Linked DNA regions of Homo sapiens: region 2 is linked to region 1. Evidence: fine-mapped expression QTL. A gene starts in region 1. The other region holds a variant in brackets. All regions are shown on one strand. Distances are between the middles of the regions. Region 1 holds the start of SERPINI2 (serpin family I member 2). Region 2 overlaps SERPINI2 (serpin family I member 2).

Region 1 (4,418 bases):
TGTTGGAATGTTATCAATGGCAATGGTATCTCCAAATAGTTATACAATAGTTTTTTTCTATCTTTTCTCATGGTTAAGTGGGATAACTGTAACTCTGACATCAGGTAAACCTTCTGTGCTGTCTACTCTACAGTAATTTATAGATCAAGAGGAAGAAATGGAATAAAAACAGACTTACTCCAGTGTGGTTTTAGACCTATAATATTAGAAAATTAATGTATTCTAAAGCAACTGAGTAATCTGGCTAACTTTTTACAATTTTCCTCACGCTTTATTTCTTAGGACAAAATAACCCAAAGCCCTCTTCCTGCTTTTCCAAAAGAAGACAAATACAATGCAGAAAACCTGCAAAGTTTGAAACAAAATGGCAATCAAATATAAATGATACAATAAAGTACTATGCTCACTACCTGGGTGATGAGATCATTTATACCCCAAACCTTAGTGTCAGGCCATATACCCATGTAGCAAACCTGCACATGTACATTAATCTGTAATAAAACTTGAAATTATAAAAGAAAAAATATAAATAAAATGAAATATAATATCAAAGAATTGACAGAAATACTAACAAATGTAAGAGTAGCAGCAATTAAAAACCATAAACAATTCACAAGACTAATAATACCCTATTAAAGTGCTCTCCACTAAAATTGCAGGAAATTCAACCATTTGATTATATCTCAAGCAGAATTAGTTTTGCAATATTACCACATATTTGGTAGAATGTTGACTCCAAGGCCTCATAAATTTTAGTAACAATAATTTTACCTTATAAATAATACATGTTAGTAATCCTTAAAAACTTATCCATCAGTAAGTTACTAGGAAGTAACCCTTAATTAGGGGTAAAGATGAAAGCCTTTAGAATAGTCTGTTGTCAGCCTTAAGTAGAGACTTACATTTCTAGAGTGTTTTGCAGATCATTAAGGGTACCATAAATGGTAGGAGTCCCTAAGAACAACTATATTTATATATAAAGATTACTAATAGTCAAATATTGTTCCAAATTAAACTATGGAGTCATTATTTATCCTTCAATGTATTTTGTTAAACTGTATTTGTTTAGATATATATTTGCAAAAGACAAAAGCCTCAAAAAACAATCCAAAGCAATTGTTAGAAAATGTGTTGGTAAACTTTAGATATAGACCTATATGCTATTAATATCAAGCAAATGTTTCATTAGGGATTAATTTAGCATATGAGCTTATAAATGAGAGTGCAACAATAGTTAAAAACCAGTGAGTAAGAGAAGTTTTACATGCAAAATAAATGTCTGTGTATCATTATCTTCTAATATATTCAATTTCTCAGAAGACTTCTGACCAAAATATGTGTTTGTAGATACGTAGTCAAAATGTTATTAGTACCTTTAAGTTATCAACTGGAAATACATTAGATATAGCTTTATGTATTTGGTTTATATTGGAATAATGAACAGTATTATTAAAAATGTAATTTTTTTCTTTGTGGTAGAATCTCAGTATTAGAGTTTCCTTCTCATTATTATTAATAATCTTAATAATTAAATTTATATTATTTGAGCATCCACATCCATTTTTTCTAGAAAATTTCTAAGCACTTAATAAATTATAACCTCAGACAAATATTGGTTTTAAAAACTCACTTACCTCATCAGGTTTTGGATCATATCTTATCAGAAAGCACAAAGTAATGCTGAACTAAACAACCTGATGAATAGTCCTATAAGAACTGGATCTTCTGATTTGTGGTGAAATCATTTAAGGAGAATAAAAGCGATATGTTAATTAAATAAATTCAAATGATTTTTACACCAAAGTAAATTGAAATGCCATTCCATACTCTACTAAACATTCATAGGCAATGTTATTGCATACATACTTATTCAAAAGCTATTTATTTCTAAGGTACTTACCCCAAACTGACTTCTGATTATTCACTGGAATGTTACAACTAAAATACGCTTGCTGGAAAACTCTTGTACATAAACACCTGAGCGATCAAGGCCAACTCCATTTATCTTGACCATTGCTTGATTAATTCCTCTAGAACAAAAGCAGGTGTTCACTACATTTGTATTAAGAACTAACACAATCGGGTTAATGATCAACTGATGAAATGTGCAAGAATTGAGAAAAAAACAATTATAGAATTTTTTAAAAGTATTAAATTTATATTATTATTTTATCCATTATTTTGCTTCTTTTAAAAGTTGCACAGAATTTGAAAGGATGCGCTACTGGTTGTAAATTTGCTAGTAATTAGTTCTTTTTGTTTCTCACAGGACTCCTACATCAGATTACCAATGCACTTTGTCATAAATATTTCAGAATGCCTATGAGAAAAAGAATAAAGCTAAATCAAGTCCAGAATACAGAGACAAATCACTGCTGCATTGACAGAGTTCTCAACATTCATCAAATTATACAATAGTCAGAGGAGTTTCCTGTGGATATAAGGTCCATTTGAATCCTTAAGAAAAAGAGTGGATATTGAAGAAATATGTTCTTTATTCTGAGCAGAAAGGCCAGCAAAAAAGATAATGGATTTGCCAAAATATATCAGGACAATACTATTAGCCATAGGTAATTGGATGATAAAAATTGCTGTTACCTTTATGTGCTTTTGAAACTCTACATGATTTTCTTTGCAAAAAGGTCATTAATAAAAAATTGCATAATTTAATGGGTTTCATCTCATTTTTGTAGTTCAAATCAATCACCTCAATGGCAATCAGATATTAAGCACATTGTATTATTTATCTATAGCCTTTGAGAAGAGAAAAAAAATTTAGTTCACTTTTAATTAAATATCTGTTGATCCCCAAATTTAATACTATTTCTGATAAACTCATGTAAAAGAAATAAAGTGAATATAGATAGCTTTAAATGGAATTCATTTTTAAAAACTTGTCAGAGGACCCTGTTAACATCTTTCCATGTCCTAACATGGCTATAACTTAAAAATAGGCCTGAGAATAGATCATTATAGGCCATAATCTACTAATTAACTAAAATTTTTTGATTTCCCATATAGGCATCTCCAAATGTTTTCTAGATCTTGAGTTTTATTCTAATATTACCTACTCTATCATAAGCACACTCTAGTGTAGCTTTAACTTAACACAGAGATAATTTTCCAAAAAGAGTTGTGCAATACAAGAATACTATCATTCTACTTGCTTCACACTGCAATACATAAATATTAAGTCTGAATGTCAAGACTATCATTCAATCAATGCTTTTCTACCCATTTACTGACACCAGCAAACATATATCACCAGTACCCTTGGCTACCACATCATTATGTCTGTACACTGCTCAGATCACAATGTGATTTATCCAGAAATAGTCCATTACTTTTCCTACCAATGGCAGAGACCGTCACTCTGTCCTACTAAGACCATTTAATGAAATTGTTCTGTAAGGACCTTATATTAGAGCAGTTCAGGCAGAATGTTCATTTTCCTGTCTCTTGAGGAGTAAAAAGCAATAGCCATAAATTTATTCTCCCTGGTTTAACCTCTTTTAATAGACAATGACGACAATACAATTGTCCATAAAATATTACCACAAATTTTTAAAATATTTTCCCAAACCGCTTTTTTCTACAATTCTATTTTGCTCCTAGAAAATCGGGGTGGGGGGAGAATTATTCATTAATGAGAGCCAACGTGTCTTGGTAGAAGGTTGATCGCCATTACTGTCCGACTGTAAAGTATAAGCCTAGGAATATATATAAAAACCACAGCAAAGGGTTACAGTTATCATCTCATCAATTTTCTTATCCTTTTATAGTTTTTTCAAGTAAAAGTGCACTTAATTCCAAACTTTAAAAATGTATAAGCAAATGCCCTCATCAGTAAAGAACTTAAAAGTTAATTCTTCCATTTAAGCATGGACTCATTTCAGGCAATTTTTTTTGGTAAGATTGTTCCTAAATTTTGAGTGATAATAGGAAAATGTTCTGACAAAAGAAAATGTTAAATTATATTTAGTGTAAATATAAGTAATACAAACAAGGTAGCCTATTGAAAATTATGACATATCCTATTTTAATGTGACCAATTCCTTTTACCACAGAAAAATGGATCATAAGTAATTGAATCTGAATGTTAATTTCAGAAACAGTTTATAATGCCTTCAGTTCTGTTAAGAGTTGACAGGTGAGATCCTGCTACCTGCCTAGAAAATTAGATGCTGTGAGTTACAAAAGAAGAGTAAGACACAGAAAAAAAGACATTGTCTTTTTTCTTCTTTTTGTGTTTTTTCTCCAAATTATTAGAAACAGTTACCTTGAAAGTCTCATACCTTTAAAAGTTCTCTTCTCATTGAATATATTTATGAGACAGCTCTTCTTAATTCCTTTTACAGAAGAAGCCCTGATGTTAATTAAGGATGGAATTAGAGTTACAGCATAATACCATGCACATG
Region 2 (4,418 bases), 28 kb before region 1:
AACAGAATACACTTTATGTATACCATGAAGCCATTTAATAGTTCACTATGGTGATGCTAAATCACTATCTTCATTAATCTCAATGATTTCTTGAGTTCATTTGTGAGAGAAAAATTGATAAATCACTAAATATGTATTGTCTTAAGATAACGGCCCTTTCTACATTTTATATGGCAACAACGGACAGTCCCTGATAAATGAGCGGCCATTTATTTTAAACAATACTTTAAAGGAGTAACCCTAGTTTAGAAAGTCTCACTACAATAAAGAACATAAAACAGTTCAAACTGTCATTAAGACCTGCTAGTTAAGCATTATCACAAATAAACAGATAAGTGGGTTATTTTGGGTTTTGAACTTTTGCTGCTGTTTTACTGATAGCTGTTACTTGGCCTTTGCATATAACAAGTCATCAACCTGGAAAATAGAGTAAAACATAATTATTCTAAATGCCATTATTTACTTGTGCATTGATGCCCAATGTAGCTTTTTTTCTTTCTGTCTCCATACTACATAATTATATATTAATTGTAAAAAATTAGAATTATCTAAAGGTTAGACAGACACATAGATCAAATGACATACTTAGAATACATTTGAACACTGACACAGCCATTACTAGAATTGAAGTTGTGTTAATGCAATCTCATCAATTCTAAAACTGTTTCATTGTTTTTAAGATATGACTTTCAGAAGGGTCTCTCAGCATTAGTTTCATGGAGCCAAAAAAGAGTGAAGTATCCCTTACTGGGCCAATAATATCAGTATCGCTAGTTCATCTAATAGATTCAGATTCTGCAATTAACTATGTCTCTTCTCCCTGTAAATGACTTTAAACTTTTTCACTTGCCTTTCTTCTTTTATTCACTCCCTCATTCATATTTATTAATTTATTCATAATGAACACTTAGTATGTGCCAGGCACAGTGTTACAGGCTTCAAAAATTCTTTTATTTAACTCTATGAGATGAGCACTACTATTATGTTCAAATAAGATATAGGGAAAATGTGGCTTAGAAAGGACAAGCAACTTGTTTCACAACTGTTAGTGAATTCAGCTGGAAATTGAGCCCAACCCAATTTCACACCCTCTGTCTATAGGGAAACTGATACTATGTGCAAGGCATTTTGCCAAATATTGGCCTGAATACAGAGATGAGTAAAATATAATTTCTACTATCCTGTGGTATGTAACTCTCACATGAGCATTATGACTGCTGAAGGATCCTAAACATAAACTTGACAATTTTCCCACTGTATTCACATTTCTGGCTTCTCTTACTCACAAGAGAAAGTGCTGAAGCATCCATCCAGACAATCTGAATTTCCCTGTGTTGACACTGTGCCCAGTGCTAATCCAATCCACTACTTCTACACTCCCTTTACCTAACTGCATCATCTTTCACCAGTTGCCCAAGTTGAAGATTTGAAATTACCTTTGACTCCTTCCTATCCCTCAGAACCTACATTAGTCACTTACTGTTTTGGTATCCACCTCTGAATTCTTTCACAACTCCACACCTCTCAATTTCCATCCCCAATGTGGCATCATACACAGACAGTTGACCTTTATTCCCACTCTGACACTTTCTAGCTACGTAACCTGAGACAAACCATACAATCTTTCTCTGAGCTTTTGTTCTTTACTAGTCAAATATCTAATCTTCTGGAGTGGTTTTAGCTTTACTGATGGTTATATGAAATGGCTACC[G/A]CATATAGTAGCCATGATGGCAGCCATTATTACCACTGCCCTATTTTAGGCCTCGGTCATCTCTTAAAATACAATTCCTGGTATATAAAATGCACTTAACAAATATCCACTGAAAGAACAAATGACTTCAGATATGTACATTGCAATTAGAAACTGGAACTAGTTCTGCTTAACATAATCAGTTCCCCCAAATAATTCTCAAAAAAGGTACCTGTTGGATTATGCTTCATAATAAACAGAAATGGATGATTTGCTATAAATTGGCTTTGAGCCAGACTCATGATCACAGGGATGTGTATGCCTATAAAATAGAGACAACAGTTATTTAGATACTTGCATTAAAAGATCAGTAAAGAAAGTATATTCATAATACATTTTGTAGACAGGAAAAGTCATTTTGTGTAAGGAGTTAACATGTGGAAAAATAACCATTTTCTAAATACAGAGGAATTTGCAATAAATTTAAAAACCAAAGTACTGAAGAATAAATATTAGGTCACTCACAGAATAATTCTAACTTTATATGTATGCTCAATGAAGAAGCAAGCCAGATACCAGATTCAATTTAGTGAAAGCAGTTGAAAAAATTTATCTTTTAAACAGTAATTTTCTGTTCACTTTTTATTTGCATTATATGATTTATTTCTACAATGTTTGTAATTCCTAATTCCTATTTAGGTATATTTGCACTTCGGGTTTGTGGTAATCACATCTGAGCTCAAATTAATTTTTTTTTTTACTTACTCTTTCAAAATTATTCTGTGAGCTCAGAGCTTTTAGGATTTGTGCAGTGAATGTGTGTGAGATTTTTATTATGAGATTTGAAGCAGAAATTTGCTGCCTTAAAAATTACTTTCTATGATTATTTATATTATGTTGCTCCATTACAGTATTTGTCAATATTTAGAATAGGAAAATATAAAAAGTTAGATATTTTTCCTATCTAGATTAAATGTTTTATGCTTAATTCAGATACTGTATTTCCCAATAATTGAATTATTTTGTACTGTTATTTTCAGACCCCAGGAAAAATAAAATCACTATGTATCATTAGAATTATAAAACAGTCAAATATAATCTTAGTATGATAACATGATTGGCACTCTCCTATCCAGAATATCAAGGGTATACCTAAATAACCAGTGAATATAGGCTCATGTCTGAATTACTACGATAAATCCAAAAGCAAGATCAGTTTTACTCCCATTCCCATTTACAGTGAATACTTGGACTTTTTTTGCTTTTGAGCAGTCCGTGAGTGGATTTCTGAAAGTCAAAATACCCAGACTGACTATTCTGAGGAGTTTTACTTTGATTCATCTACCTTCTCTTAATGATTGTTACAGAATCCTAGAAAATTTTAGACTTAAAATGAGAGACAGTGGGCAATAACATAAAGAGCTCTGAACTTAAAGTCAGGGAACATGAGTTGCGTTCAAATTCTGCTGTCAATCAATAATATGGCCTCAGGTAAGCCACTTTACATTGCTGGGCCTGTTTCTTCACCAATATAATGAGATCAAACAATAATCTATAAGGACTCTCTCAGTACTGTTTGAAAGCAGCTGGAAAATTTGTCTACATGATCCAGCAATTTCATCCAAATATAACCTTTTGACTTCTTCAAAGATTAATATAGTTCATCCCCTACAATCCAAGTTCCTTGAGCACAGCAATGCAAGATCCTTCAGGAGATGACAAAATTGTAAGGGAGTCCAGTGTGTTTCATCCAGATGTCAAAATCCATTGGCCCAATGCAGCATTGCAAATTAATCAAGAAATTAATAAATGAATATCAATTTTTATATATTTATCAGTAAGACATTGAAATGATAAATAGCTTTTAAATATTGATTAAAATCCAAATAGTATGGGGAATTAAAATAGACTTACAAGGAATTCATTAAAGTTGCTTGTCCATTTATAATTATTTTAGGGCTTTTTTCTAATTATTTTTCAAGCATTATTTATATGCAGCACAGATGCTATTTAAAATGTCATTTGTTCAAGGAAATATGGCCTAGAAGAGTGGTTCTCTAACTAGAATGTACATACAAATTTCCTAGTGATCTTGCAAAATACAGATTCTGATTCAGTCGGTCTAGGGTTTGGATCTGAGATTTTGCATTTCTAACGAGTTCCCAAGTGGTGCTGTTGTTGGTCTATGCACTACATTTGTAATAAAAAAGGCAAGCTGCAAAGCACTATGGAGCACTGGTTCTTCCATGCACATTGATATCACTTAGGAAAACCTATGAAAATTTTGGAGTCTGGATTTCACTTCCAGAAATACTGATATAATTATTTTGGGGTGTGGACTGGGCATAGGAGTTTTGTTTTGTTTTGTTTTGCTTTGTTTTGAGATGGAGTCTCGCTCTGTTGCCCAGGCTGGAGTGCAGTTGCGCGATCTAGGCTCACTACAAGCTCTGCCTCCTGGGTTCACGCCATTCTCCTGCCTCAGCCTCCCGAGTAGCTGGGACTACAGGCATCCGCCACCACGCCCGGCTAATTTTTTGTATTTTTAGTAGAGACGGGGTTTCACCGTGTTATCCAGGATGGTCTCAATCTCCTGACCTCGTGATCCACCCGCCTCGGCCTCCCAAAGTGCTGGGATTACAGGCGTGAGCCACCGCGCCCGGTTGACTGGGCATAGGAGTTTTTAAAGCTTCCCAGGTGATTTTTATGTGCAGGTTAAGTTTGAGAGCCA

The links. PIP is the estimated chance that this variant, and not a neighbour inherited with it, causes the effect.
Region 2: its variant is the best candidate, but not a certain one, in a credible set for the expression of SERPINI2 in nasal epithelium (TOPMed, PIP 0.77).

The regions. Positions count from the first base shown.
Region 1 is chr3:167,472,103-167,476,520 of GRCh38, forward strand. SERPINI2 (serpin family I member 2) reads right to left here and starts at 1,940. Exons shown (of 9, transcript NM_006217.6): 1 at 1,901-1,940. It overlaps LOC105374197 (a long non-coding RNA gene), which reads left to right. Exons shown (of 3, transcript XR_924683.3): 3 at 2,270-2,358.
Region 2 is chr3:167,444,470-167,448,887 of GRCh38, forward strand. SERPINI2 (serpin family I member 2) reads right to left here. Exons shown (of 9, transcript NM_006217.6): 8 at 1,923-2,012. Among named protein-coding and RNA genes, the nearest start is that of SERPINI2, 27 kb to the right of the region's middle. The variant G/A (reference allele first, on the strand shown) is at 1,712.